Homo sapiens: one gene and its partners. The protein of the gene in region 1 purifies or fractionates together with the protein of each later gene. This does not show direct contact. Each region holds a gene or a part of one and is shown in the gene's direction. Other genes may lie near its edges. The genes, in order: GIMAP8, OAS2, SRP54 and POLR3E.

The links.
Region 2: the proteins of GIMAP8 (region 1) and OAS2 purify together in Homo sapiens (affinity purification with mass spectrometry; 2 studies listed by BioGRID and IntAct, with this or other methods). This does not show direct contact.
Region 3: the proteins of GIMAP8 (region 1) and SRP54 purify together in Homo sapiens (affinity purification with mass spectrometry; 2 studies listed by BioGRID and IntAct, with this or other methods). This does not show direct contact.
Region 4: the proteins of GIMAP8 (region 1) and POLR3E purify together in Homo sapiens (affinity purification with mass spectrometry; 2 studies listed by BioGRID and IntAct, with this or other methods). This does not show direct contact.

The regions. Positions count from the first base shown.
Region 1 is NC_000007.14:150,474,215-150,480,747, forward strand, and holds the end of GIMAP8 (GTPase IMAP family member 8), read left to right. Parts: coding exon 1-424; intron 425-2,877; coding exon 2,878-3,566; 3' UTR 3,567-5,179; downstream 5,180-6,533.
Region 2 is NC_000012.12:113,001,988-113,010,256, forward strand, and holds part of OAS2 (2'-5'-oligoadenylate synthase 2), read left to right. Parts: intron 1-944; coding exon 945-1,115; intron 1,116-2,946; coding exon 2,947-3,235; intron 3,236-4,425; coding exon 4,426-4,613; intron 4,614-5,717; coding exon 5,718-5,956; intron 5,957-7,099; coding exon 7,100-7,268; 3' UTR 7,269-8,269.
Region 3 is NC_000014.9:35,020,319-35,028,587, forward strand, and holds part of SRP54 (signal recognition particle subunit SRP54), read left to right. Parts: intron 1-2,591; coding exon 2,592-2,762; intron 2,763-7,769; coding exon 7,770-7,865; intron 7,866-8,269. UniProt on the Homo sapiens protein: Component of the signal recognition particle (SRP) complex, a ribonucleoprotein complex that mediates the cotranslational targeting of secretory and membrane proteins to the endoplasmic reticulum (ER).
Region 4 is NC_000016.10:22,327,771-22,336,039, forward strand, and holds the end of POLR3E (DNA-directed RNA polymerase III subunit RPC5), read left to right. Parts: exon of another isoform or gene 1-739; coding exon 740-817; intron 818-4,289; coding exon 4,290-4,415; intron 4,416-5,873; coding exon 5,874-5,930; 3' UTR 5,931-7,326; downstream 7,327-8,269. UniProt on the Homo sapiens protein: DNA-dependent RNA polymerase catalyzes the transcription of DNA into RNA using the four ribonucleoside triphosphates as substrates.

The DNA.
Region 1 (6,533 bases):
AAGAAAGTTTCGATCATTGATGCTCCGGACATCTCATCTTTAAAGAACATTGACTCAGAAGTTAGAAAACACATCTGTACAGGCCCCCATGCCTTCCTGCTGGTGACACCACTGGGCTTTTACACTAAGAATGATGAGGCAGTGCTGAGCACCATCCAAAACAATTTTGGAGAAAAATTCTTTGAGTACATGATCATACTTCTTACCAGGAAAGAAGATTTAGGGGATCAGGATCTAGATACGTTCTTAAGAAACAGCAATAAAGCTCTCTATGGTCTCATCCAGAAGTGTAAAAACAGATATAGTGCCTTCAACTACCGGGCAACAGGAGAAGAAGAGCAAAGGCAGGCGGACGAGCTCCTGGAAAAAATTGAGAGCATGGTGCATCAGAATGGGAACAAGCATTGTGTTTTCAGAGAAAAAGGTAAAACTGTGAATAGGATATATATTTTTACATATATCATTTAAAAATAGGTATAAAATATATAAGAACTTTTTATTTTCTTTTTTTTCTTTTTTTTTATTATACTTTAAGTTTTAGGGTACATGTGCACATTGTGCAGGTTAGTTACATATGTATACATGTGCCATGCTGGTGCGCTGCACCCACTAACTCGTCATCTAGCATTAGGTATATCTCCCAATGCTATCCCTCCCCACTCCCCCCACCCCACAACAGTCCCCAGAGTGTGATATTCCCCTTCCTGTGTCCATGTGATCTTATTGTTCAATTCCCACCTATGAGTGAGAATATGCGGTGTTTGGTTTTTTGTTCTTGCGATAGTTTACTGAGAATGATGATTTCCAATTTCATCCATGTCCCTTCAAAGGACATGAACTCATCATTTTTTATGGCTGCATAGTATTCCATGGTGTATATGTGCCACATTTTCTAAAAGGCATAGAGAAGATAAAAAGGACAGGTCTCCTGTTCCTGTGTTAGTCTGCTTAGGATGGCAGCCTCCAGCTCTATCTATGTTACTGCAAAAGACAGGATTTCATTCTTTTTTATGGCTGCCTATTATTCTATGGTGTATATGTACCTGTACCTAAAATAAAAGTTGAAATGAAACAAAAAAGAAGTTGAAACTGGAAGAAAAATAAAGGAAGGATAGGTCTGTTCTATGGACTAACTCTTTTCTCTTTCTTTGCTTCTCAAATTGTACTGAAGTTATAGCTTTTCCATGCACATTCTCTTGAACCGGTCTTTAATTTTTTCATGATCTTTACTATCTCTTCAACTGGATAGTGTGAGTGTCTTGAAGAAAGGAGCTGATGCTTTCCAACCCTTTGTTTCCCCACAGTGTACTGTTGCCCAGAGCTTGGCACACTGCTCTCTTTACTACTTAAGAAGGGCTCCTCATCCACTTAGTGCTACACGTTCAGTTGACCTATGCTGAGGTCCTTCCCATTCTTACTCATCCCGTTTTTTTTTCTGCTTCAAACATCCTCACCCAGGAAGAAGATAAAACCCAAAGGAGCATATTTTCTTATTGAACCCTCCTTTAGAAGTATAGATACATGGGAAAGTCAGGAGAGGCTTTGTGTAGAAAGCCCAATTTGAAACAGGTTTTAGAGAATGGGTAGGGATTAAATGGCTGAGCAGAAAGCTGGAAGATATTCCAGAGAGTACACCAGCAATTTGAAGCAAAGAGGTAGGACTAAGCATGTCACTTGTTAGGGGACAAAAAAGAATAATCTTGGTGGAGATGGGGGTTCACAGCTCTAAAGGACATCTTCCAAGAACATTGAAGATTAAGGCGTTGAACATTAAGAACACTGAATTAGAGAATATGGGATGGGGAGTGGGGCCGGATTTCAGAGGTACATGAGAAACACACCCTCTGTAGGTACAGAAGTAGGGACTGAAATATATGACAAATATGGGAGTGTTGGAAGATTAAGCTATTGTTCATCTGCTGGGCATAACTATGAAGTTGAAGTTTCAGCATAAACAGGTTAATAATTTCCCCTTGAAGGAAGAGCATGGGATGTGCTTTCTTCCTCCTTTGCATTGAAGTAGATATTAGCTATTTGATATGAAATTCATAATGGAAGAGAACTACGAAGAGACTTGAATGAGCACTGGACTGTCACAGTGCAAGTGCAAAAGCATAAGAACGATCTCCAAAGAACGCATATTGTAAGGTCTCTATGTGTCTGTAAATTCCATTTATAGGGAAATTCATTCTCTTTCTCCATCATGGACACCACACACCCAACAGTGTTAGTGGATATTCATTATTATAACCATGCGGTTTCTTCTGACTCATCAGTGAAAGGCAATTAAGTTCAATGTGGTTTTAATGAGAAATGAATTTTTACATGTCCTAACTAAGGAAACTGGTAATCTATCAGTGATATGTAGAGTTTCTTTTTCATGAAAGTCAATTTTACAGAATAATTCTTTAAATACTGTAAGGAGATGTTGCTATAGTTAGCAGTAGTTGGGAGTGAGAAGATGTAGTTGTAACAGGAACAGAAGACAAAGGGATGAGATGTGTAGACGGAACCCAGCTGAGGGGAGCAGAGAGTAAGAAGGCCAGGGGACACTCACAGGTGCCAGGGAGTCTGTCTGGAAGGTGCTGCAAAAAGGGAGCAGAGCCGATTCAGTGATAGGAACAGTGCCACATTGGTGGATGAACCCTGGACGGAGACTGTATGTAGTCCAAGTCCTGCCATGAGTCCACAGACTGAGTGAACTGGGCCAAGTCATTCCCGTGTTTGGAGATCCCCCTGCTTGGGTGAGAAGGAGGTCTTGATGCTGTTTGAACATGCTGTTTACTTTAGTGATGTAATCTTGCTTCATGGGATAACTTTAAAATCCAATTTCAGATCAGCCCATGGTCACGAATCTTTCCCACTTTCCTTTGACAGAAACCCTGAACATTGTCCTTGTGGGGAGAAGCGGGACTGGGAAGAGTGCGACCGGGAACTCTATCCTGGGGAGCCTCGTCTTCACCTCTCGGCTCCGGGCCCAGCCAGTCACCAAGACCAGCCAGAGTGGCAGGAGGACATGGGACGGACAGGAGGTGGTGGTTGTGGACACTCCTTCCTTCAACCAGATGCTGGATGTCGAAAAGGACCCATCCCGGTTAGAAGAGGAGGTCAAGCGCTGTTTGTCCTGCTGTGAAAAAGGGGACACATTTTTTGTCCTGGTGTTCCAGCTGGGACGATTCACTGAAGAGGACAAAACAGCTGTGGCGAAACTGGAGGCCATCTTTGGAGCAGACTTTACGAAATACGCGATTATGCTGTTCACCCGGAAGGAAGACCTAGGGGCGGGGAATTTGGAAGACTTCATGAAGAACTCAGATAACAAAGCCCTTCGGCGCATTTTTAAAAAGTGTGGGCGGCGAGTTTGTGCTTTTAACAACAAAGAAACAGGCCAGGCCCAGGAAACCCAGGTGAAAGCTCTTTTAACAAAGGTCAATGATCTGAGAAAAGAAAGTGGGTGGTCCGGGTATCCCCATACACAGGAGAACGTCAGCAAACTAATTAAAAATGTCCAGGAAATGTCCCAAGCCGAAAAACTCCTTAAAAATTTAATAGGTATTTTACAATAGGTAGCCGAAGTGCCTGGGGTCTCTTCAATTAGAGACACCCTCAGGTTGGGGGGAGGGGCGGGGCATGGTACAACCTGTGGGAAGGGAAGCGGGTTCATGGCTTTGAGGGCCTGAGAGGCAAATGCATCCCGCCTTGTGATGTATCAGCTATTTGTAGATAAATAAATTGCAGGTGGGGGCGAATAGTAGGGTATTATAAAGGAGAAAGAAGATACAAGGTGGGGAAATCTGGAAAAAGATTTCAGACATTAGGCTGATAATAAGTGGTAGAATCAAGTCACAAGAATCACCTCACTTGTGTAGGTAGGTTGGAATCAGGATAGACACTGTGATCAAGGCTGAGGCCACCTGGGATGAGAATATAGATAGTCGTACAACAACCCAGGGGATCCAGATACATGAGACCAGGGCAGCGTTCAGCACACTCCTGGGCATGGCGGAAGCAGGAAGCAGACTCCAGAGGGCCTCCCTGTTGTCCAGGGCCGTTGGCTCCCTGAGCTCTCCTGTCTCCTTTGGGATGCGACTTAGGGCTAGAGTGTTCTTTTCTTCACACGTTAGCCATTCCTTACGGCTCTTCACGTTCCACGCCTAGATGTGAAGTGGGACATAGTCTTCCATTGCTGGCTGTCCCTGAGGAAACAGACATGAGTCTTGGAGGTTCTGAATGATTTTATTGCTAATTATCACAGTGACATAGACTAGAACAGAAATTAGAAGCATAGTAAGATTGCCAAAATCAGAGAATCTTGCAAAGTTCTGTAATTCTAAGTGTTGTTCTAGATTTCCTCTAGAGAAGGTTATTAGAATCTCCATTGCGTTTCTCTTTCTCCTTCTCTTTCCCTTGAGGTTAGGAAACAGGTTAAAACTCAGAGAACTCCAATAATAATGGTTTAAAAACATCAGGGGCTTCCTGTATCTCCTGTCAGGAAGCCGAGGAATAAGCAGGCTGGGGCTGGTGGGCGTCAACATCCCAGTTTTGTTCTATCTTTCTGTCCCACCTGCACTGGGATGTGGCTTCTACACTCGAATTTGCTTCTTGGTTTCAAGACAGTGGTGTTCTTTCCATAGCTGAGCAGATTATTTTGAGAGGTGGGTGATATGTGAGAGAGAAATCTGGAACCTTCTTCTGGGTAGATACAGGATAAGATAGATACAGGGTAAAATGTTGAGCACTTTGTACATGCTTTGAGAGCATAATCTTTGTCATCTGTTTTTTTCCCCTAGACAATATCAGGTTACCGTCAACATTAATCCATTTAAAAGGACATGGACTGTTGCCATTAATACTTTTGGATTCCATATAACCCTTAACACAATAACTTCTAGAAAATGTGTGTGCCGTAGACACAAAGAAGGGAACAATAGACACCAGGGTATACTTGAGGGTGGAGGGTGGCAGGAGGGTGAAGATTGAAAAGCTGCCTATTGCGTGTTATGCTGGTTTCCTGGGTGACAAAATTACCTGTACACCACACCCCTGTGACACACAACTTACTCATGTAACAAACCTGTGCATGTACCCCTTGAACCTGAAATAAAAATTGGAAAGTAAAAAAAAGTGTGTAAATATATTTAGTTGAATCAAATAATAAAGATGAATCATTATGAATTCACATTCTCTTTCTGATTTCTATTTTTGTGATTTAGGGAAGCAGCATACCTTCATGAAGAGACAATTGAGATGTTTAGATACCTTGACTCAGGCGAGGTTTTTGTATCTTTGGTGCCTGAGGACCTTCATTTAGACTGGGTGACAGCCATTTGTGTGGCAGGTCCCTGACAGCTCAGTTATCTTTCACTCTGGACATCTAAGTATAGCAAGGACAAATAAATGTAACCAGTATTAGAACCAGAAACATGGGAGGAATAAGGTCTGAAAGGCATTTTGTGCTTCTTCCCTGAGCTTCCCTTCTGCCTGAAGGCAGAAACAAATCCCAGTGTGCTACCTATGGCTGAGCAGGTGACACTGGGAGCTGCACAAGGTGGGTGATGTGTGGGCTAAGCAATGTGGCATCCTCTCACAGGTTGGCTCTAACATACCTTGCTGTTTTCCTTCAGGTCCAAGTCTGAACGGGGCAACAATACTGCTGTGTCAGTTTCTCTGAGAAATACATGCCGAGAAAGAGTTAGGAGCACAAGAGGTTTATGGGGAAAGCTCATGAAAGACAAAAGAGGGAAGAAGCCAAATTGGGCAGGGAAAGCCTTCAGACTGTCATTTAGACTGGACACTTGCAAGAGAAAAGTGGGGAGGAGCTGAGTTGGGCAGGAAGAGCCTGGCAAAGCCCAGGCCAACTCAATAGGGAATTCTGGGGCAAAGACAGATTAATAGCCAAGTCCTGCATTGGACAGACACTAGGAGCTCTGCTGTGCTCCGCTTTAGGCTGGGGACTGGCTGGAGAAAGCATGGCTTCAGCTCAGAAGCTCAGATGGGACCTGACAGTGTTGCAGCTGGAGCTGAATGGCAAGTTTCTTCTTGAAGTGAAAGCCTTCAAGAGTGGCATCCCTTCCTCACTGCCATAATTGGCGGACATCCTCCATGTCTCACTGAAGACCCTCCTTGAGCTGGAAGTCCAGAACTGATATTCTACTCTCTCAAACATATGTGTCTTACCAAGGCCACTATCATGCTGGCCACCTATTGCTTGTCCTGCCTCTCCAATGTGACATCATTGAGGTAATGTGCTAGTTCTCAACTGGAAACAATTTTGCCCTGTAGAAGACATTTGGCAATTCCTGGAGAAATTTTCTTTTTCTTTTTTTGGAGACGGAGTCTTCCTCAGTCACCCAGGCTGGAGCGCAGTGGTGTGATCTGGGGTCACAGCAAGCTCCGCCTCCCAGGTTCATGCTATTCTCCTGCCTCGGGCTGCCGAGTAGCTGGGACAACAGGCGCCCACCACCACGCCCGGCTAATTTTTTTTAAAAATTACTTTTAGTAGAGATGGGGTTTCACTGTGTTAGCCAGGATGG
Region 2 (8,269 bases), on another chromosome or scaffold:
TGGCACCACTGCCCCCCAGCTTGGGTGACAGAGCGAGACACTATTTCTGAAAAAACATGGGTTAGAATCATGGGTTGGAAGGCTACCTGTTGGGTTCTATGCTCACTACCTAGGTGATGGGATCATTCATACACCAAGCCTCAGCGACATGCAATTTACCCATGTAAAACCCCACACATGTACCTCCTTGAACCTAAAGTAAAAGTGGAGAAAAATGTATTAATTAATTCAATTAAAAATTAAAATTAAGAGGAAAAAGACCCCTGTGATAACATCAGGCCAAACCAGGTAATGCAGAATAATCCTCCCATCTCTAGAGACTTAACCACGTGTGCTTCAGAGGGAGCACAGCTGTGCCAAAACCTGGACTTTGAACTGTTGGCCTCCAGAACTGGGAGAGAATAAACTTCTGTTGTTTTAAGCCACCTAGTTGTGGTCACTTGTTATGGCAGCCTTTGGAAACCAACACACCCGCACATGGCGTGTTTAACGCAGGCTGATACAACCTTAAGAAAGGAATGGATGTGGTCATCAGCAATCTCCAATACCTACAGCAAATGGGAAGACAGGGAAGGACCAGAGGTGTAGGTAAAGCAAAAAGCCACAGGTCATTAGGAAGTGATGCTCCAACTGGGCATGGAAAAGGAGTTTGGAGTTAGGAACACGACAGATCTGTCTGGACAAGGATCCAGATCTCTCCTAGGGGGAAGGAGGGGCAACTAGGACAGTTTTTGTGTCTGTGGGGGGTCTTGTGTGCCACTCCAAACTCTCAGGTGTGTTCTTGGGATGTATTTGTGCAATGACAAAAGACGGAAAAGATGCCAGCCCACGAGCAGGAGGGCAGTTGGGAGAGGCAGGGTAGGGGGCCCAGTACAGGCAGGAAAAGAAGCCTTGGGTGGGCTTACAGGTGCCACTCACACTTGGGGTCTTCCTTCCTTCCCCAGCCTGCACCACTCTTCACGACCCCAGGCCACCTTCTGGATAAGTTCATCAAGGAGTTTCTCCAGCCCAACAAATGCTTCCTAGAGCAGATTGACAGTGCTGTTAACATCATCCGTACATTCCTTAAAGAAAACTGCTTCCGACAATCAACAGCCAAGATCCAGATTGTCCGGGTGAGCACTGGCCTTTCTCATGTCTTGTTGGAATGATGTAATATTGGGCATTCCTGGAAGGGAGGTAAGTGGGCATTGTAGCTCTCCAGGATCCATCTACCTTCAGAAACTTGAGGAAGGGAAGCCAGGAGTTAAGGGAACTAGGACACTAGTTTTCAGGGGGGTTGTGGATAGACTGCCTAGGTCATTAACAACACAACTTTGATTCTGTATTGTTTTTCTTGGAGCTGTTGGCCGTCCTTGGGGCTCTTGGGCCTGGAGACACATCACTCCCGTCTCTGCCTCTGTCATCACCTTTTCTTCTGTGTCCTCCCCCTTCTCTTCTTTTCTAAGAACACTTGTCATAGGATTTAGGGCCCAGCCTGATCCAGAATGATCTCATCTCCAGGTCCTTAACTCAGTTACATCTGCGAAGACCCTTTTTCCAAATAAGGGCACATCCACAGGCCCCCAGAGCATGTATTTTTAGGGGTCCACCATTGAACCCACTGCAGATTCTAAGGAGCTTAGAATCTCCTTCTCCTTTGAGTGACTGGAGCCCGGCTTGCCCCATCAGCTGAGCTAGAGATTTAGAGGCTTTTGTCATTCTTGTCCGTGGCTCAAAGGCCACGGGGCTGACATGTTTCTCTCTGTTTACTGGTCACACGACCAGATAAACGTGTCCCCGTGGTCACAAGAAGGGAAGGAGGAAAATGTTATTATGTACGCGTAAATTTCTGCGTTGATGCCAGAACAAATCTGTGCAACTAGAGAAGAGGGGCCTGGGAAATGGCACCAATAGCCCCAGGGCAATGAGTGAACTGTCTCATTGAAGGTCACTGGAGTGAAAACAGGACTGAGTTTCTGATCAGTGTTAGAATTGTCAAAGCATGTGCTTTCTCCTCTCCTTCCTGAAACCCCATTCACATGATAGTCAGTGAAAAATAAAAGGTATATGACACATCAAAGAAGAAAAGAGAGCCATCGGCAGATAAGACATTGCTTTCCATCTTCCTGAAGTTGGTTGAAGGTTTCTCTGCTTAGGCCAGAGGAAGGTGACACCTAGAGATTGTAAGGAAGGGGCTACAGTCTGAGAGGAGCCGCCGAAGCCCACCTCTTAAAGACAAAGGTGGCCTGCATGAATGAAGGGGGCTGGAACAGGGATGAATTGAGGATCTGCATACAGGAAATAGAACATACCCTTTCCTCACCTCCTTAACCCATGTAATCAGGCATTTAATACCCATGGATAAAATAAAACATTTTTCTCTACAGAAACTAAATGGAGGAGAAAGAGGAGGAAGAGGAGGAGGGAGGGAAGGGAGAAGCCTTAATGGCAGAGACATAAATAGCCCACAAAGCCTAAAATACCTACTATCTGGCCCTTTTGCAGAAAGTTTACCAACCCTGTACCTCAATTATGGATATTCACCCAATGATCGCCAGACCTGCAGGAGAAAACACACATCAAAGAACAGATGAGCACCTTCACCATAATTATTGCATTCCGCTCGATTTATTTGGTTACAGGAATCCAAATAAAGCTAAATATGTCTTTAGGAAAATCTTTAGGAAATTGACCTGAGAAGCAGGTAACTTGTAACTAGCCCATCAGTTGTTCATGTATAAAAGGCAGGAGAATAATTGCCTTGGGAACTGTATTGTTTAATAACTGCATTATCTATTAGTTTGTAAAAGAAAACCCTTTGCTTTGGACTCAGCCCTCACTGAACCCTAACGCAGAACTTGGCCTTGGAAACAGTGTCAGTTAGCCCAACTGGTGCCAGCCCACGGGGGCACGGGACTCCTCGGTTAAGGAAATTCTGGATCTCAACCTTCCTTTCTTCCTTAGGGAGGATCAACCGCCAAAGGCACAGCTCTGAAGACTGGCTCTGATGCCGATCTCGTCGTGTTCCATAACTCACTTAAAAGCTACACCTCCCAAAAAAACGAGCGGCACAAAATCGTCAAGGAAATCCATGAACAGCTGAAAGCCTTTTGGAGGGAGAAGGAGGAGGAGCTTGAAGTCAGCTTTGAGCCTCCCAAGTGGAAGGCTCCCAGGGTGCTGAGCTTCTCTCTGAAATCCAAAGTCCTCAACGAAAGTGTCAGCTTTGATGTGCTTCCTGCCTTTAATGCACTGGGTAAGGCTCCCCAGACCTTAGCTTGGAAGTGATGGTGGACAGAAGGTGGAGGGAGAGCCACGTGACTTGATTACGGGCTCTGAAAACATGTGCCACTCATGGGTCCCTGGCCCCAGCAAGTGGCATTAGTCATGGCAGTAATACTTCACACTTGTAGACAATTTTGGTCCCATTTCTCTTTTCCAAGCATGGGGCTGTGTGCCTATAATCCCAGTAATCAGGGAGACTGAGGCAGGAGAATTGCTTGAACCCGGGAGGTGGAGGTTGCAGTGCGAGATCGTGCCACTGCACTCCAGCCTGGGTAACAGAGTGAGACTCCGTCTGAAAACAAACAAACAAACACACAAACAAAACAAGCAGTTGGGCTGGGCATAGAGGCTCACACCTGTAATCCCAGTATCTTGGGAGGCCGAGGCGGGAAGATTGCTTGATCCAGGAGTTCGAGACCAGCCTGGGCAACATAGTGAGACTTCATCCCAAAAATAAATAAATAAATAAATAAATAAATAATAAACAAAGTTAGCCAGGCATGGTGGCACACGCCTGTAGTCCCAGATACCCAGGAGGCTGAGGTGGGAGGATTGCTTGAGCCCAGGAGATGGAGGCTGCAGTGAGCTGTGATCATGCCACTGCACTCCAGTCTGGGGCAACAGAGCAAAACTCTGTCTCAAAAAAGCAAAAAACAACAACAACAACAAAAAAAAAAAAAAAAAAAAAAAAAAAAAAAAACAAGAAGCAGCGCACCAGATTTAGCCCAGGGGGCGGTAGTTCACAAAGTCCAGATCAGTGTCGTCCCAGAGATCTTTCTGTGATCATGAAAATGTTCTATGTCTGGGTTCTACAACTACTGAGAGCTTGACATGTGGCTACAGCAACTGAGGAACTAAATTTTTAATTTTCATTCCCTTTAATGAATGTGAGTGCAAATGGCCACATTGCTGGTGGCTGCTCTGTTAGTTTAAGTCTAGATAATACTTTAATAATACCAGCTGCACCTGTGTAGACCACATAATTTTTACATATCTCATTATTCTGGAGATGCTCCCTGTGTCTTAGACATCAGTCTTTTAAATATGCTAATACTATTCACAGTAATTTCCAAGAATTAAATCATATTTGTCAAAAATGTTTTGGAATCTGTTACTTACTATGTGTATTAAAGCAGGATGTCAATCTCTCCCTCATGCCAGGTCAGCTGAGTTCTGGCTCCACACCCAGCCCCGAGGTTTATGCAGGGCTCATTGATCTGTATAAATCCTCGGACCTCCCGGGAGGAGAGTTTTCTACCTGTTTCACAGTCCTGCAGCGAAACTTCATTCGCTCCCGGCCCACCAAACTAAAGGATTTAATTCGCCTGGTGAAGCACTGGTACAAAGAGGTAAGGACAGTCTTTGTTCTGACCATGGGGTTATTATTTTTACCAGTAAGCCATGAACATTAAGCCCTGTTGCCCACAATCTCCCATGCTGAGGGCTGAGCCACTTTGGAGAATCTGCCCACTGGATATCTTTACGACGTTCCCATCACTAACCCTATTCATTTGGGTCAGGCGTTGATGGCTTCTGCCCATCAAAGCTGCTACATGTGGTTTACTTTGCCCTCACACTGGCCAAAGAATTCTGCAGGAATCCAAGTGACCTTGCCTACAGAGGGTGGGTGGAAGCTGGGATTCACATGCCCACACATTGCCAATAGGACTTTTCTGCTTCCCGGCGCACATGCTCTCTCTCAGAAGGCAGGTTGAAGCTGTAGGTGGAACCGGGGCTGCATTTTCTATACACCCAGCTCACAGGAGCTTGAACAACTGGTCAGCCCCTGAGCCCCTACTACAAGTGATCCTCAGGCAGGTAACCCCAGATTCATGCACTGTAGGGTGCTGAGCAGCATCCCTAGTCTCTACCCAGTTTCCCCTCACTTGCACACAAAGTAGCTTCTGAACATCCTCATGACAGTAAACATCAAGCACGATATCAGCTCTTCCTGAGATGCCTCCTTTCTGTGTCCAGCTCCCTGAAATGTGAAACCAAGACCAAACTCTGTAGTTTTCATCCCAGAAAATCAGAGAGCTGGCATGGCGTGTCAGAAGACTTGGGGCTGTGGCGTGACCTTGAGTGAGTCACTCCACTTCCCGCAGCTTCAAAGTCTTCATCTAAAATGCAGGTCATGCTGCCTGCATTGTGGGGAAGATTAGGAATGATGTGGGTAAATGCCTGGGCCCATAGCTGGCATGCAGTGGGTTTCTAGTAAACTGTAGCTATGTTATTGTCCTAGGAAGGCATATATGGTCAAAAGCACAACAAAGAAACTCAAATGTGCTGCTGCCAGGTGGACTCCTGTAGGCTGTACAATTTAGACATCCAAGCTGCAGAGTGTGAGCACACCAGCACGACACTGTGACTCAGTTGCCTTGCTGTGGTCCCTGTGCGGCTCTCACTGAGCTCCTAGGCTAACCAGTTCGTCTGATGTTCCCACTCTTACCTAGTGTGAAAGGAAACTGAAGCCAAAGGGGTCTTTGCCCCCAAAGTATGCCTTGGAGCTGCTCACCATCTATGCCTGGGAGCAGGGGAGTGGAGTGCCGGATTTTGACACTGCAGAAGGTTTCCGGACAGTCCTGGAGCTGGTCACACAATATCAGCAGCTCTGCATCTTCTGGAAGGTCAATTACAACTTTGAAGATGAGACCGTGAGGAAGTTTCTACTGAGCCAGTTGCAGAAAACCAGGTGCCTTCACCCTAGCCCCGTACTTTTCTTAACCTGATTCCCTTGAACACTGTCTCAGCAACCTGGATTTTCCTCTGCTGGGGTCACGATTCATTCCTTGCATGACGGGGGAAAGTGCTAGCCAACAGAACCTGTCACAGTCTCCAGGGATAAAACCTAGCAGGGGCAGGAGAAAATGCTGTTCAGAAAAAATAGAGAAGGAAGGTTCAAGATACCACGTCCCTGAGCTGCTTTCATCTAAGAGGTGTTAGAGTTGGAAGTGTGTCCCTAAGAATTAACGCTATCATTCACGGGCCGATTTATCCTGCAGGGTTTTTATTGGGTTAGGGTTTATCTACTCTTTCAGACCTTCAAGAATAGTAAGAAATCATATCCATCTGCTTAGGGCCACCAGCAAGGGACAAAAACAATGGAAACCAGAGGAAAGGAAAGAGAGAAAATAAAGGAGCGTTGAAAAAGAATAGAGGAGAAGTAAGAGAGAAGGAGACCCCCGGTGGGTTGCCTACCCTGGGTTCTTGGCAACATTGTATTTGATTAAATTATGTATCATATTTTAGCTGACATAGCAAGGAGGAGATATTTAGACTATGCCTTCATTATGCCTTCATGAGTATAGCAATTAACAGCTTTCAAAACGCTTTTGGCAAATACAATTTAATTCTAGGAAGTTGCTTTGGTTTTGGCTTTTGTTTTTGTTTTTGAGACAGAGCCTCACTCTGTCACCCAGGCTGGAGTGCAGTGGCACAATCTCAGCTCACTGCAACCTCTGCCTCCCGGGTTCAAGCTGGTTCTCCTGCCTCAGCCTCCGAAGTAGCTGGGACTACAGGTGCGCACCACCACGCCCAGCTAATTTTTGTATTTTTAGTAGAGATGGGGTTTCTGCATGTTGGCCAGGATGTTCTCGAACTCCTGGCCCTCAAGTGATCCTCCCACTTCAGCCTCCCAAAGTGCTGGGATTACAGGCATGAGCCACTGCACGCGGCCTCTAGAAAGTTACTTTGAACCCTACTAGTAAATTTGAGTTGCTGACATCTAAGCTGTAAGAACACATTGTCTTATTGCTGAAAGTATTATAGGATGGACCCCAAATTCTGAAGTCACTGGGATTTGGAATCTCCTAATGCCTTCTAACCTCTCATTCAGGCCTGTGATCTTGGACCCAGCCGAACCCACAGGTGACGTGGGTGGAGGGGACCGTTGGTGTTGGCATCTTCTGGCAAAAGAAGCAAAGGAATGGTTATCCTCTCCCTGCTTCAAGGATGGGACTGGAAACCCAATACCACCTTGGAAAGTGCCGGTAAAAGTCATCTAAAGGAGGCGTTGTCTGGAAATAGCCCTGTAACAGGCTTGAATCAAAGAACTTCTCCTACTGTAGCAACCTGAAATTAACTCAGACACAAATAAAGGAAACCCAGCTCACAGGAGCTTAAACAGCTGGTCAGCCCCCTAAGCCCCCACTACAAGTGATCCTCAGGCAGGTAACCCCAGATTCATGCACTGTAGGGTGCTGCGCAGCATCCCTAGTCTCTACCCAGTAGATGCCACTAGCCCTCCTCTCCCAGTGACAACCAAAAGTCTTCAGACATTGTCAAACGTTCCCCTGGGTTCACAGATCTTTCTGCCTTTGGCTTTTGGCTCCACCCTCTTTAGCTGTTAATTTGAGTACTTATGGCCCTGAAAGCGGCCACGGTGCCTCCAGATGGCAGGTTTGCAATCCAAGCAGGAAGAAGGAAAAGATACCCAAAGGTCAAGAACACAGTGATTTTATTAGAAGTTTCATCCGCAAATTTTCTTCCATTTCATTGCTCAGAAATGTCATGTGGCTACCTGTAACTTGAAGGTGGCTACAAAGATGACTGTGGACGTGGGTTGCACTGGCCACCCAAGGATGTCTGCCACACCTCTCCAAAGCCCTCCCTACCTACCAAGATATACCTGATATATTCCACCAGGATATCCTCCCTCCAGATATACTTGGTTCTCTCCACCAGGTTCTTTCTTTAAAGCAGGATTTCTCAACTTTGATACTTACTCACATTTGGGGCTAGACAGTTCTTTGTTTGGAGGCTCTCTTGTGCATTGTAGGATGTTGAGCAGCATCTCTGGCCTGTACCCAGTAGATGCCACCCAGTTGTGACAATTAAAAGTGTCTTGAGACTTTATCATGTGTCTTCTGCCCTAGGTGAGAACCCTTGCACTAGAGGAACCCTACACCCCAACCCTGGGGGGAATGTAGGGAAGAGGTGGCCAAGCCAACCGTGGGGTTAGCTCTAATTATTAAGATATGCATTATAAATAAATACCAAAAAATTG
Region 3 (8,269 bases), on another chromosome or scaffold:
GGTTGCCAAAGGTCAAGGTGGCTGTGACAATTTCTTAAAACACAAGAATGAAATTTGCCCCATTGATTGACTCTTCTTTTCACAAAAGATTTCTCTGTAGTATTCGATGCTGTTCGATAGCATTTTACCCACAGTAGAACGTCTTCCAAAATTGGAGTCAGTTCTGTCAAACCCTGCTGCTGCTGCTTTATCAACTAAGTTTATGTAATATTCTAACAATTTGAACAATTTTTCATATCTGTGCTTTATCTACTATCTGATTTATTGTTATTTTTTTGTAGTCTCTTTTTCCTGAGCTCCAGGTTTTCATAGTAGCCCAAATAAGACTGTCTTTTTCTTTTAAGGTTGTTTTTTTTCCTCACTGTCTTTAACACTGCAAAAATGTTTGCATGTAGAATTCATAATTGCAGCATATCTAAAGTATCCATTCTGTGCCAGGCACTGTCCTGAGCACTTTAAATATATTAATTCATTTTATCATCATAACAACTCCTATGGCATATTCAGTTATTATCTGCCTTTTTCAAATTAGGAAACTGGGATACAGGGAAGTTGAGTAATTTGCCCAGTATAGAACCTTTCCTGACTTCCTTCCTTCTTTGAATTAACGCCCCTTCCTCTATTTGCTTAACTCTGTCGTATTACTTGCCACGATGTGCTGCTATTAGTTTATCTTCTTTCATTTGATTTGAGCTGTTGGAAGGAATATAATATATATGTTTCATAAATCTTTTATAAGGAAGATGTGGCTTAAAAGCTGCATTTATGAAATGGATTTGGAGGTTTTGATCGTGACTTTATTTTGAGATATTGTATCTTTGTTAGTATTGCATTGATAATTAGACTTCACCTGGATTTCAGTTCACTTCTGGACAATATACTTAGAGGGTATGTATAGACAAATTAAAAGATGTAGGAAATCAGGATGATAAATGGGGTTCTAAACCATGTTAGAAGAGTCAGAGGTGGATATTTGTCATCCAGCGAAAATTCACAGGAGACATGGTAGCTCTTATGCATTTGAAAGCTGGCCAGGTGCGGTGGCTCTCAACTGTAATCCCAGCATTTTGGGAGGCTGAGGTCGGTGGATCACTTGAGGTCAGGAGTTCGAGACCAGCCTGGGCAACATGGTGAAACCCTGTCTTTACTAAAAGTACAAAAAAAATTAGCTGGCTGTGGTGGCGTGTGCCTATAGTTCCAGCTACTCAGGAGCCTGAGGTGGGAGAATCGCTTGAACCCTGGAGGTGGTGGTTGCAGTGAGCGAAGCTTGCACCACTGCACTCCAGCCTGAGGGACAGAGCAACACTCTGTCTCAAAAAAAAAAAAGATTTTGAAAGCCTTATTTTTTATGCGTAGCAAGGAGACATATACATGAATAGGAATGGAAGTGCCACGTAAATGGATTTCAATTTAATATGTGTAAAGAAAAGATTTTTCCCTAAGTATAACAGAATGGCATAGACAGCCTTACATTAGATAGCAGGTCATCTCTCCTGGGGATATTAAGACCAAGGCTAGATAACCATTTATTTGGGGGATATTGCAGAGGGAATGCAGACATAATGGACATTTTGACTAAAGTCCATCCCATTCCTGAGATTGCATGCAACTGAAGCTAGAAGAAATGCACCTGATATTCTAAGAGTGATCAAACAACTGCGGGAATTAATTCACTATATGCTACTGAGAGAATTAAAATACTAGTAGTAGTAATTACTTGATTATAGGAAATAATTTTTCTGTTGATTATGGATAGAACGTACCTCTTTCTGCTTGCTTATATAGTCTACATTATGAATTTATGATTAATATTTAGGGTAGAGCTAAAGTGAGCATTTGTGTTCATTTTTTAAATATACCATATACCTCTGATGTTTGGAGGGCCTGGAGAGGGTAGACATATGAAGTATGGAAATGTTGGACATGGGGTCTCGAAACATTCTATTAATAGTTTACTTAAACTGTAGGGAAAGTACATGTTTGTTTCATTGTTTTTATAGCTTATGAATACTATAAATGTTCTTTTGAATATATTCCGTATTTTCTTTTTTTTTTTGAGATGGAGTCTCGCTCTGTCGCCCAGGCTGGAGTGCAATGGCGCAATCTTGGCTCACTGCAACCTCTGCCTCCCAGGTTCAAGCGATTCTTCTGCCTCAGCCTCCCGAGTAGCTGGGACTACAGGCACATGCCACCATGCCCAGCTAATTTTTGTATTATTAGTAAAGACAGGGTTTCACCATATTGGCCAGGCTGGTGTCGAACTCCTGACCTCATGAGCTGCCTGCCTCGGCCTCACAAAGTGTTGTGATTACAGGCATGAGCCACCACGCCTGGCCTCCATGTTTAATTTTTAAAACTCAAAAGCAAACATAGCGAATGTTAACATTTGTTAAATCTGGGTGGTAGTTTGACTATGTATTATGTCTGTTTTTCTGTATGTAAGATATTTTGTAATATAAAAAGAAAAATGAGATAGTTATCACTTTAAAAACATCTGCTAAGCTCTTTGAAGTTATATATTGCCCATTTGCACATAACTGCTTTGATGGTGAATGATAATTGTGTGTGAGAGTAACTGACCTTGTCTACAGAACTAGACAGTACGGATGGTGCCAAAGTTTTTAGTAAACAACCAGGAAGAATCCAAAGAGTAGCAAGAGGATCGGGTGTATCAACAAGAGATGTTCAAGAACTTTTGACACAATATACCAAGTTTGCACAGATGGTAAAAAAGATGGGAGGTATCAAAGGACTTTTCAAAGGTAAGAAAAATAAGCTTGTTATTAGTTAACAGACGGAAAAGAAAGGAAGTTGAGAAAAAAGAGTGCTGCCAGTATTGGAAAATTCACAGCTGAATTTCATGTTATTTTCAAGTACTTCCAGGATTTATGTGACCTGTGATTTATCTGTTTTCATATTCAAGGTAATATTAATATTTAAAAAAAAACTTTACATCTGTGTAGTGTGGGTAAATGAAAAAAAATTAATAAAGCAATGATTTTCTTTTTGTGAACACATTATATTAAATTTAGATAATATAAGGAAAAAAAAAACACATTACCTTTACTCCCCAGAGAATCCAGTGGATCCTACTGCAAATAACAGTTGCTATAACTAAGTTTTCTTCTGATATATCATAACTGTTTTTCCATGTTGTCAAATATTCTTCAAAACATAATTCTTGGCCAGGCACGATGGCTCATGCCTGTCATCCTAGCACTTTGGGAGGCTGAGGCGGGCGGATCACTTGAGGTCAGGAGTTCAAGACCAGCCTGGCCAGCATGGTGAAACCCTGCCTCTACTTAAAATACAAAAAATATCCGGGTGTCGTGGGGTGTACCTGTTATCCCAGCTACTCGGGAGGCTGAGGCAGGAGAATCACTTGAACCCAGGAGGCGGAGCTTGCAGTGAGCCGAGATTGTACCACTGTACTCCAGCCTGGGCAGCAGAGTGAGACTCCGGTCCCCAAACACACACACACACACACACACACACACACACACACTTCTTCTGAGTAATACTGTTTAAGTTATGCATGTATCTTTGTCTAATGTAGTGCCACTTTTTTGGACAGTAAGGCTGATTCATTCACTTCTATATCAGATCAGTTTTTGTGCAGTTCCATGAGACCAGGGATTTTTGCCTGTTTTGATCAGAAACATAGTAGAAGCTAAAAAAATTTTGTAGTAATATAATTTCCATTATATTTCTTTATTTATATTATTTTGAGACAGAGTCTCTCTCTGTCACCCAGACTGGAGTGCAGTGGCACAATCTCGGCTCACTGCAGCCTCTGCTTCCCAGGCTCAAACAATTCTCCTGCCTCAGCCTCCCGAGTAACTGGGATTAAAGGCATGCACCACTACCGCCTGGCTAATTTTTGTATTTTTAGTAGAGACGGGGTTTCACTATGTTGGCCAGGCTGGTCTTGAACTCCTGACCTCAAATGATGTGCCCGCCTCGGACTCCCAAAGTGCTGGGATTACAGGCTTGAGCCACCACGTCCGGCCTCACTTCCATTTTAATGGTTGAATATTTTCTCAATATGTGTTTTTACATTATTAAGTTTAACATTTCTTTGTACATTTACTGGTTTGAATTTACTTTGTGAATCACCTCTTCATGTTCCCTGTCCAGTTCTTCCATTTTTCCCCCTTATATCTTTGTAATAGCTCCTTAAAATCTTTGGTTTATGTCTTCAAATATTTTCCCCCAGTTTTTCATTTACCTTTTATTTTTATTTATATTTTATAATGAACAGTAGTTGCCCTTTTTAATGTAGCCAGCCTATCTTTTTTTATTTCTTTTATGCTCATAAACAGCTTCCCCTTGTTTATTTTTTCCTTTTTTTTTTTTCTTTACAGAGGTAATCAAGTTAACCTTCTCCATGTTGATACCACAGTTGTCACCATTTTCTTCTTTTTTTGAGACAGAGTCTTGCTCTGTCGCCCAGGCTGGAGTGCACTGGCATGATCTCAGCTCACTGCAACCTCCGCCTCCTGGGTTCAAGCTATTCTCCTGCCTCAGTCTCCCGAGTAGCTGGGATTTCAAGCACGTGCCACCATGCCCAACTAATTTTTGTATTTTTAGTAGAGACTGGGTTTCACCATCTTTACTGGCCAGGCTGGTCTCAAACTCCCAACCTCAAGTGATTCGCCCGCCTTAGCTTCCTAAAATGCTCTGGGATTACAGGCATGAGCCACAACACCTGGCTTCTACTTGTTTTTGTTTTTATTTTGTGTTTGACTTTTTAATCTCAATTGAATTTATTTTGCTGTGTATTATGTATCGTAAAAAGATAAGGTTTTCCAAAGACTTCCAACTGTTCCAGTCCTCTTTTTGATTTTTTTCTATAATGTAAACAACTAATTCAGAGTCTGTGAAAATTTGCCTTGAAACCCATTAAAATGAATTTATTGTTTCCAAAAATATTAATTAGACAAGCTCTGAATATGAACAATACCATTGAATAGCTTCTAAAAGAATGAGTATTTCCAGATGTTTTAAATTACCTTTTGTCTTTGAAGCTTTCCTTATTTTCCTTGCGATATCCTATTTTCTCTTTTGTGACAAAAAAATTAGACAAACATGTTGAAAATTGGTTATAATTCCTACCATCACATGCTATTTCAGATAGTGACTAATAAACACATTACATCACTGTAATGTCTTTCCCATGTAGTCCTGACTGTTCTTGATAGAACAGATTCACCATCCAGATCTTATCTATGCATTGATCCCTCAATAAAGGAATAACCCAAGATGAAGTTGGCAGTGGGTATACACACAGCTATGTCACACCAAACTTGAAATACTTTTTAGAAGTTTTAAATGCTGATAAACAAACTCTTAGGACAAATCACTAATGAGCATGGAATTCCCATCTTCTTCAGATTTATTCATCATAAATGGTTTTCACAGATTTTATCATAAAAACATAATCTTCTCTTTCATTCATAGTTTATAATTCACATGATTTATTCACATTAACCAGCTGTGATTGGAGAATCAGGAGGAGCTTTGAGTCCCATATTTTATAAATGCTTCTGAGAAGTACCATAGTTAATGCCCCTTTCAAATAAATAATTTTGGATGGTTGTGGTGGCTCATACTTGTAATCCCAGCACTTTGAGAGGCCAAGGCAGGAGGATCCCATGAGCCCAGGAGGGCAAGGCTGCAGTGAGCCATGATCAGAGCACTGCATTCCAGCCTGGGCGACAGAGCAAGAGCCTGTCTCAAAAAAAAAAAAAAAAAAATTGTTGAAGCAGTTCTATTCATTGTTGTAGTGATGATCTCTTGCTTTCTTTTATGAGTACAGCTGTTGTCTAAAGGGTGTTTTTATCTATTCTGTTGTTGTTTTTTTATTTATTGTTGTTGTTTATTTTTTGTTGTTTTTTGTTTGTTTGTTTTGTTTTGTTTTGAGACAGGGTCTCGCTGTGTCACCCAGGCTGGGGGCTGAAGTGCAATGGCATGATCATGGCTCACTGCAGCCTTGACCTCCCAAGCTCAAGCGATCCTCCAATCTGAGGCCCCCAAGTAGCTGAGACTACAGACGCATGCTATCACACTGAGCTAATGCTTTTTTTTGTTTTTTTTGTAGAGACAGGGTTTCCCCATGTTGCCCAGGCTGATCTTGAACTCCTGGGCTCAAGTAATCAGCCTACCTTCGCCACCTGAAGTGCTGGGATTACAAATGTGACCCACCTCACCCAGGCTGCATCTCTTTCATTGACTGCCCTTTTTACTATGGTGTTTTGACATAGTGTAGAAATTCCTTGACAAGTGAAGTTGCATTATTTGTCTTTGTATTCTCTGAAGGTTTTCATTACTTAAAGAAAACTTCTGGCCAGGCGCTGTGGCCTACGCCTGTAATCCCAGCACTTTGGGAGGCCAAGGCGGGCAGATCATGAGGTCAAGAGATCGAAACCATCCTGGCCAAAATGGTGAAACCCTGTCTCTACTAAAAATACAAAAATTAGCTGGGTGTGGTGGCTCATGCCTGTAATCCCAGCTACTCGGGAGGCTGAGACAGGAGAATGGTGTGAACCCGGGAGGCGGGGGTTGCAGTGGGCTGAGTTCGTGCCATTGCACTCCAGCCTGGGTGACAGAGCTAGACTCCATCTCAAAAACAAAACAAAACAAAAAAAACTTCTTAGATACATACACATCTTCACGTTCTCTCAGACTCATACTTTACTTTCTACTTTCTTTTTTTTTTTTTTTTCTTCTGAGACAGAGTCTTGCTCTGTCGCCCAGGCTGGAGTACAGTGGTGCGATCTTGATTCACTGCAACCTCCGCCTCCCGGATTCAAGCAATTCTGCCTCAGTCTCCTGAGTAGCTGGGACTACAGGCGTGTGCCACCATGTCTGACTAATTTATTTTGTATTGTTAGTGGAGACGGGGTTTCACCACGTTGGCTAGGCTGGTCTCGAACTCCTGACCTCAAGTGATCTGCCAGCCTCGGCCTCCCAGAGTGCTAGGATTATAGTTGTGAGCCACCACAGCCAGCCCAACAGACTCATACTTTCATATTCATCTACCAGCCATCCAGTCTCTTTGCTAATTAACCCATGTCTATAAACTCAGCTTTTTGTCCAGCATTCCCCTGTATCACTATTAAGCCGTTGTTATAGCTTACTATTAAAAACTGCTGGCTGACCAGGTACGGTGTCTCACACCTGTAATCCCAGCACTCTGGGAGGCTGAGGTGAGTGGGTCACGAGGTCAGGTGTTTGAGACCAGCCTGGCCAAGATGGTGAAACCCTGTCTCTACTAAAAATACAAAAATTAGCTGGGTGTGGTGGCGGGCACCTGTAATCCCAGCTACTTGGGAGGCTGAGGCAGGAGAATTACTTGAACCTGGGAGGTGGAGGTTGCAGTGAGCCGAGATCACGCCACTGCACTCTAGCCTGGGTGACAGAGCAAGACTCCATCTCAAAATAAATAAAAAATAAAACACTGGGTACAATTTTGCTAATAGTGGCTTATTCACAGATATAAATAAAGTATTAGCATAAATCGTAGCCTTAAAAAAGCCTTTTATATGTCCTTTTATATAGAATTTTACATGGTCTTCAAAAAATAGTATGTAATTGAGAAAAAGATTAGAAGGGAATATGTAGAAATAGAAAGAATTATGTTAGAGTGATAGGATTATGTAATTTTTTCTTAGTATTTTCTCAGTTCATCAAACTTTCTATTATACCCTGATTATACTGATTATATTACCTCCTACGCTGACTCAAAATCTTTTTTTTTTTCCCCTCAGGTGGCGACATGTCTAAGAATGTGAGCCAGTCACAGATGGCAAAATTGAACCAACAAATGGCCAAAATGATGGATCCTAGGGTTCTTCATCACATGGGTAAATACCAAGTTGTTGGCAGTTGCTAATGCAGTTTAATTTATAAGGGTTGAGTTTTAATGATAAGCCTTTTATTGTAATATTATGAAAATATGTTCAAAAGGTGTGTGATTTCAGGGAAATGGTCATCTGAATCCTAAGTTGAATTCAATTGTAATAGGGCTTATTAGCTGAGGTCTTATTCACTCCTCTGCTGCCATCTGTGTGATGTTTGAGCAAGCTATTTAATCATCTTTTGTTTGTTCTGGTGACTTTTTCCCTTATTTTAGAACCTGGATATTTTTACTTATATGACTGAGGATTTTTAACCTGAGTTCTACTTTGACTATATAACCTTTACAAAGTTCCTTAAACTTTCTGAACCTCACTTTCCCCTTCGGTAAAATCACAGATCATATCTCATC
Region 4 (8,269 bases), on another chromosome or scaffold:
CAAACCTCTCTGAGCTTACTTTTCCCCATGTACTACCTCCCCAGTTTCTAATGCTCAAATGCAAATGTGTATTGGAGGCCTCACAGGGCTTTTACTGGTAGTAACCATTATTGCTACTTGTGTGATGGAACCAGGACTGGAAACTACCATCCCAGATGCCCCCTCCCCTGTCCCCTTCTCTCCAGGACCCAGGCCTGTGTCACACTTGTCCTGGTCTACCTTTGGACCAAGTGGCCTGGATTGCTTGGGAGTCAGGCAGTGCCTCTAACCCACACTGACATGGTACATGTGGGAAGCAGTTGAAAAGAACCCCCAGGGTACCCCAAGAGTTATGGGGAAGGGGGCGCCCCTCCATCAGGGTTGGCATCTTCAGGAGGGAGGACTCTGGGTGTTAAAGCACAGTTGAGTTGGTGCCAGGCTGATGGGAAACAGACGCAGCTTCCCCACTGTACGGAGGATATCTGCAGACTCGAAGCCGGGCATTTCACTGGGCCCATCACACTCCCCCTCTCGCTGAAGCCCTGTCAGGCCCTGGGGGGTGTGCTGGCCTCCTCCCCATGGTGAGGTGAGAGGCACAGGTTTGTGGCTGCCCAAGGCCCTCAGAGATGGTGAGTAGCAGAAGCTGGGATTGGAACCCATGTTCCTGCATCTGGGCTGGGGCAGACAGGGAGGGATGAGGCAAGCAAATGGATCCATGGGGTAGAGATGGACAAGCAACTCACCCCTGGGCCTTGGTCAGTTTCCCCCCCAGACTGCTGCTTCCCCGGATGAGCAGAAGGTGTTTGCCCTCTGGGAGTCTGGAGACATGAGTGATCAGGTGAGGTGAACTTTGCTGCCATCTTCCCGAAGAGCCAGGGGGGTTTCCTGCAGCGTTGGAGGCCTTGGGGGACATGTGCACCCAAAGTGCAGCCACACATTTCAGATTTTCTGGCACACTCGGTTTTAAATATCCTGCTCCAACTCTGTACGCTAACAAAATAAGCTGTATGTGCCAATAGTTTGAACCTAAACCAGTGGTTCCCAGATGCCAGTCTGTGAGCCAGCTCCATCAGAATCATCTTTTAAAAAATACAGGCTGGGCGTAGTGGCTCACGCCTGTAATCCCAGCACTTTGGGAGGCCAAGGTGGGTGGATCACCTGAGGTTGGGAGTTTGACACCAGCCTGACCAATATGGTGAAACCCCATCTCTACTAAAAATGCCCATAGTCGTGGGAGGCTGAGACAGAATTGCTTGAACCTGGGAGAGAGAGGTTGCAGTGAACCGAGATTGCACCACTGCACTCCAGACTGGGCGACAGAGCAAGACTGTGTCTCAGAAAGAAAAAAAAAAAAAACATAGATTCAGTTCTGTTCAGTAGGTATGCGGTACTGTCCTAGGTATCTGAATTTCTGTAAAGCTTCCTGAGCAACTCTGATCCAGCCAGGCTTATAGAGCACTGGTGAAGCACATTTCTCAGGCGGCCTCTGGCAGCAGGAATCAAAAGGATTCCTTGTCAGATGTCAGGTCCTGGACTTTTAGGTTAAAGAAATTGGTCATTTTGCCTCTAGTCATACTGTGATGGGGAGGGTCACAGGTGTCCAGTGCCCAGAAATGTGAGTGGAAGCAGCAGCGCCTTGCGTGTGTGTGGTGTAGTCATGGACCCTGCATCCCAGCTTTTCTTAGGCCGTGAACGTACCTAATTTGATGGTCGAAACGCCAGTCGGTCTGACCGTGTCTAGGCCCTGCTCCTAAGGTGTGGGGAGAAGGGAGTCAGCAGAAATCCCACTGAGCTCTCTGTCCCCAGCTGCCTCTTAGGGGAGCCAACTGGCAGGCTGAGGATCTAAGGGGCTGGGGCCTTTTCCTGAGCAAGCTTGAGTGCTTTTGTCCAGAATAGAGGGTATCTGAAATACTTTGATAACAAAAAGGCAAAAAAACAAAAGTCATAAATGCAGATTTTTAAACATCAAATCAGACTAGAAGTTTTAATAGGAAAGCTCTTGCACTGCTGGACCTGACTGCCACCCCTCAGAGGTGACCACTTTTATTACTACTTTTTTAATAGAAACAGGGTCTCACTATGTTGGCCAGGCTAGTCTTGAACTCCTGGCCTCAAGCAGTTCTCCTGCCTCAGCCTCCCAAAGTGCTAGGATCATAGGCATTTACATCACCAAAAGATACCACTAAAATAGCTGCCCCCATTTAAAAAAAAAAATCAGCCTGTCATTAGCAATGGGCTTCCCATTGTGGTGGATGAGATTTAGCTCTCAACTATTTTAGGAGACTGTAGAGATAGATATGTTACGCCAGTTTTTTTTTTTTTTTTGAGATAGATAGCGTCTTGCTCTTGCTCTTGCTCTGTCATCTAGGCCTGGAGTGCAGTGGTGCCATCTCAGCTCACGCCTCTTGCGTTCAAGCGATTCTTGTGCCTCAGCCACCCGGGTAGCTGGGATTACGGGCTTGTGCTGCCTCACCCAGCTAATTTTTGTATTTTTAGTAGAGATCGCGGTGGTAGGGGTCGGGGGGTGGTCCCACCATGTTGGCCAGGCTGGTCTCGAACTCCTGGCCTCAAATGATCTGCCTGCCTTGGCCTTCCAAAGTGCTGGGATTACAAGCGTGAGCCACCACACCAGGCCTTTACCTCTTTTTAATTGGCTATCATTGTTTATAGCATTGTCACAGAATGAACTGAAAATCTATCCATTGTAGAGCCAAACATCAGTAATATACTATGATTGCATTTCCTTGTTCACTGCTTCCTGTTTTCACTTGTGTAATTTTCTGAACACATGTGTACCGAGGGTGATACTTTGCTTAATTAAGCCTGGTTCCCGGGAAGCCTCTCCCTCTGCTTCTCCAGTGAGACTCGCTCTTCCCCATGTCTGTTGCTGAATTCTGGAATCTCTGCTTCTTCCTTGCTTTAGCTTCTGAAGAGACAGAGGAGTTGTCTGCATTCTTTCATGTCTTAAAATGGATTACAATACAGTATTACTGTTTGTCTGGGACTAGAATTTTAAGAGGCAAAGGATACTTCATGTAGCAGTCAGCTGTTTACATGAACCATAGCAAAAAAAAAGGAGAATCAAATCCATCTCCTCTTAATGTTTGCAGAAAGATGCAAACAAAACCAGCTAAGTATGGAACAATGTGTGAGGTTATCAAAGTTTCTATTTTTACGTGATCAAATGATTTGCCTCTCAAAATTCTAGTCCTAGACAAATAGTGATACATGAAGCATCCTTTTTTTTTTTTTTTTTTTTTTTTTTTTTTTTTTGAGACAGAGTCTCCCTCTGTCAGCCAGGCTGGAGTGCAATGGCACGATCTCGGCTCACTGCAACCTCCGCCTCAGCCTCCTGAGTAGCTGGGATTATAGGCGTGTGCCACCACGCGTGGCTGATTTTTGTATTTTTAGTAGAGACGGAGTTTCACCACGTTGGACAGGCTGGTCTCGAACTCCTGACCTCAGGTAATCCGCCTGCCTCGGTCTCCCCAAGTGCTGGGATTGCAGGCGTGAGCCTCTGCGCCCGGCATGAAGCATCTTTAAGAGAGTTTCCATTGTTTAAGTTTTCAGAGTTGTTGAAATTCCATAACATTCTCCTTCTTGGTCTTTTAAATTTGGCCTGTATTCTTTCCTTTATGCCAAACTGCAGAATTTTTCATTATTCTGTATATCAGTCAGTGCCATTTCAGCTGTGCCCTGGTGCGGGTCATTATTGTACTAGACAATTGAGTTCTTATAAAATCCTGTGAGTTGTTACTTTTTTTTGTTTTTTTCAGAATTCTTATGACAGATATTAGACATACTGAATCCAATCTTTTCCATTTTTATTTTGGGGTGTAACGTATTTTACGGCATCCTGTTTCATGGATGCAGTGGCATGTTTGTGCATTAAGACTTCACACCAATTTTGACACCCTCTTCTCATCTCCGTGCAGCTTAGATTGTCGCTTCACCTGCTTGCTAAGTCCGATGCACGCCTGCATTTTACCATGCAGAAATATGTTCAAGCCACTCATCCTCTCATGTCTCTTCACCAGTTCTTTTGTTATGCTGGCATATACCTTTGTTTTTATTTATATTCAAGTTTCCAGACATAGCATTAATGCCTTTACTTTTGTGTTTTTATTTCTGTACACTGTCTTGCTGGGTCTCTAGAGATGACTTGGCTCATCTTTAACCAGAGGTGCTGCGTGAGGGTTTTTATCAGAGACTGCAACACAAAGTCAGGTGCATGGCTTGGGTGTCTTGTTTGGGGATGTTTCTCTTTTTAGATCACTGTTTCCCATCATAACGTGTTTTTGCTACTAAAGCATCGACAGGTTTTGCTTGAAATTTTTTCCAAAAATTACCGGGTACGCCGAAACATGATCCAGTCTCGGTTGACTCAAGAGTGTGGAGAAGATCTCAGTAAACAGGAGGTGGATAAAGTACTAAAGGTACATCCATTTTGTGCATAACAAACAATATCAAAGGCTCTGGAAGGGGCTGACAGTGTGTAGAAGGGACTCTAGTGTCTTTGTGTATATGAAATCAGGCTTCCTTGGGACCACTCCCCAGTCAGTCTTGTCTTGAGCAACTGTTAATGATTGATTGATTGGCATTGGTTGGGGAAGGGGGTATGTGCCAGAGGACTGACCCCTTCAAACAATATAGTCACAGTGGTGTCCAAGGGAAAGAATACAGCCATGGATGCTTTGTTTCTCTTTCTGGTTGGGCCAGGCCAGTAATGCCCCTTTCATCCCTCTTCTCTGCTTGTCACTAGAGACAGAAACTAAAAACCATGGCTTCAGGCTGCTAAGAGCCTAAAACAATAGAACAACAAAAAAATATGGTAGGTTGGATGAGCTTGGCAGTGGGTAGGCGTCTTCTAAAATGATAGGGCCTAGTTGAGAATCCTCACTCTACTCTCCCTTGAATTTTGAACTATCTTCTGATTGTTGCCATAGCCACACACATGACTTTCAGTAGAATCCATTCTTAAATTTAGTTTAAAAAGGAATATGATCTGTTTACTATATGAAAGCACCTAATGTACAACCTATAATGCTTTTCTGAAGTGACTGTAGTACAAATACCAACCATATTTGCAGCAACACTGAGAGACAGAAAACTGATGACAATGTCTTGTTTTGATTAAACATCCAGAGCCATATAAGTAATACTGTTTTTTAAGCACCCTTGTTCTGGGCATGTCAGTATCTGTATTTCGTAGACCCCCTTTTTTTTTTTTTTTTTTTTTTTTGAGATGGAGTTTTGCTCTTGTTGCCCAGGCTAGAGTGCAGTAGCACAATCTCGGCTCACCGCAACCTCTACCTCCCAGTTTCAAGCAATTCTCCTGCCTCAGCCTCCTAAGTAGCTGGGATTACAGGTGTGAGCCACCATGCCTGGCCCACCCTCACTTTTAAAATGCCCCTGAGGAATGGCCAGGCGCGGTGGCTCACACCTGTAATCCCAGCGCTTTGGGAGGCTGAGGTGGGTGGGTCACTTGAGGTCAGGAGTTTGAGACCAGCCTGACCAACATGGAGAAACCCCATCTCTACTAAAAATACAAAATTAGCCAGGCGTAGTGGTACATGCCTGTAATCCCAGCTACTTGGGAGGCTGAGGCAGGAGAATCGCTTGAACCTGGGAGGCAGAGGCTGCAGTGAGCCAAGATCATGCCGTTGCACTCCAGCCTGGGTAACAAGAGCAAAACTCTGTTTCAAAAAAAAAAAAAAACACTACCCCTGAGGAAAGGGTGGCTGGTAGTAGCCATGGTGGTATGGTTAGGCAGTTTTTGATTTCCCATTTGTATTCTATTCACTAATCATAAATCGAGTGTTGACATTGTGGACAGAATGTAATTAGCTCCTTTTCCTGCAAAAATCTGTGCTTACCCTGTTTCTCTCTCATAGGACTGCTGTGTAAGCTATGGTGGCATGTGGTACCTTAAAGGGACAGTACAGTCTTGACAATAGTAGCAAACTACTAACCCAGCAAATCTAAGCCCAAGGAAGAAGGGCGGAACCAGAAGTAGGGCCTCGACTTGCTTCAGACGACACAGAGCAAGAGGAACTGACCATCTCATGACCTGTGGCATTGCACGGTGCAGTGGACAGAAGGGATTATCCTCAGCCAGTCGCAGGGTCAGCTTAAGTTAGTTAGATCACTCCCAGAAGAGACCAGCTGGGACCTTCTTTGCAGTACAATTTGAAATTCCTGATGTATTTTGCTTATTATTTGGTTTCATTCTCATAATAAAGAGAGTGTATACTGACATGGGCAGGATGATAAAAATCATGGTTTAATATTTTCTTTTGTAAACTTAATGCCAACAAGGTCTAAGTTATGTTTACAACATGAAGAAAACCTCAAAGTTCTTAATTTTTAAAATGCCTAGAAGACAATATTTAGTCTTGGATTATCTATCTGCTAAGACCTCCACCAATTTCATTAAACCAAATTGAATTATTCTATTCTTGGGATTCTGTGGCCACTTCACCTTTGACAACAACCTACTTTATGTAGCAGTCTCAACTGTTTACATGAACCATAGCAAAAAAATCAGAATCAAATCCATCTCCTTTTAATGTTTGCAGAAAGATGCAAACAAAACCAGGTAAGTATGGAACAATGTGTAAGTGAGGTTATCACACTTTGATGTAAAAATTTCTATTTTGTGTATTTTTAAAATAAATGCAAACACTAAACTAGCATCATGGTGCTATCTTCAAATGGTTACAGGAAGGCGATCTTGTTGGGCTCAGCGTTACGTGTATCTAGAGGGAACGGAGCTAATGGAGGAAGACAGAGCAGCACTGTCCACTAGAAAGAGGCGAGTCACGTACATAATTTTGAAAGTTTCTAGCAACCACATTAGTTTAAAAAGGTCATGTTAGCATATTATTTAGCTCAAAATATCTAAAACATCAACATAAGGTAAAAGTCTTCAAAATCTGGCATTTTACACTTTCCTCAACACTCAGTTTGGACTAGCCACATCATAAGTGCTCCGATGCCACATGGGGCTATTTGCGACAGTATTGGATAGCACAGCCCTAGAAACTGATGGAAAAAATAAGAGTAAGCTAGGTTGGATGACATGTGAATTTTGGTATCTAGATAAGGCTTTCGCCATCTTTTTTGTACAACACAGTCACTAATTGTCTGAAGGTTTAAATGACGGTCTATGCTATTTCCCCACTCCCCCCAAAATAAAACATCTAATATTTTAGCTATAGAATCACTAAGGCATTGATCAAGGATGTACTTTGCCAAATAAGTATTTGGTAACATCACTTAACAAGTTGATCGTGTATTGATTCTGTTAACATATGTGAACCTGAAAAGTAAAGTTACCAAAAGCGATTTGGAATATGTCTCAGCTTTTCCATCCTACTTCCTTCTCACTTTGAAAGGGGAAATGCTCATGTGGGACGGCACAGAATGTTAGTCCCATCACCTTGCAGAACTTAATTGGCTCAGTGGAGAAGTCAGAGCCTTAAATACTTTACATTGATAAAAAGAACTGGTTAAAACACCAAACTCAAATAGCAAGAAAAAGAAACAAGGAATATAGGAGGGAACTATTGTTTTAAAAAAAATTGAGGGAACTTGGGATGTCAGAATAGGACTTTCCAGCACTCATCCCCCTGCAGAAACATGAATTTAAACAACTGTCCACACACAAAAATACCTTCACAAGAGTTAAGGAACCTCTAGAGATTACAGCACCTTGGTGTACCACAGAAATAAGATGTACTAAAGAGGATAGGAGGGACAATTTTACATTACCTAGCTTACCCCCTCCCCAGCCCCAGGCAGCACAGGGTGGAGAGAGAGAGAGAGAGAGAGAGAGAGAGACCCTCTACTTGGAGGAAGGAGAACATTGGACCCCAAAATCATGCCAGCCCCAGACTCCAGGCCTGCGCCAGGAACACAGGCTCTAAGCATACCCACTGCCAGGCCTGCACCCATGAGCTCACACTCTAGCAGGCACCCCCTCCCCACCCTGGTCCAGCCCCATCTGAGTAAACCCCAGCACTGGGCTGGCCCTCACAGACTAGGCTCCAATATCCCCTGCAGCCCCAGGTTCTAGGCCAGCCCCCATGGCCCCAGGATCCAAGCGAGCCCTCAGAGACTAATCTCCAGGCCAGTATCTATATACCCCTGGCTCCAGGCTGATCTATATGCCCCCATGCCAGCACCCACAATCCCAGGCTCCAGTACAATACCCCTGGACCCAAGGTCCATGTGTGCCTCAGCACCAGGCTCCAGTGGACCCAGGTTCCAGGCACATACCTCAGTAAGC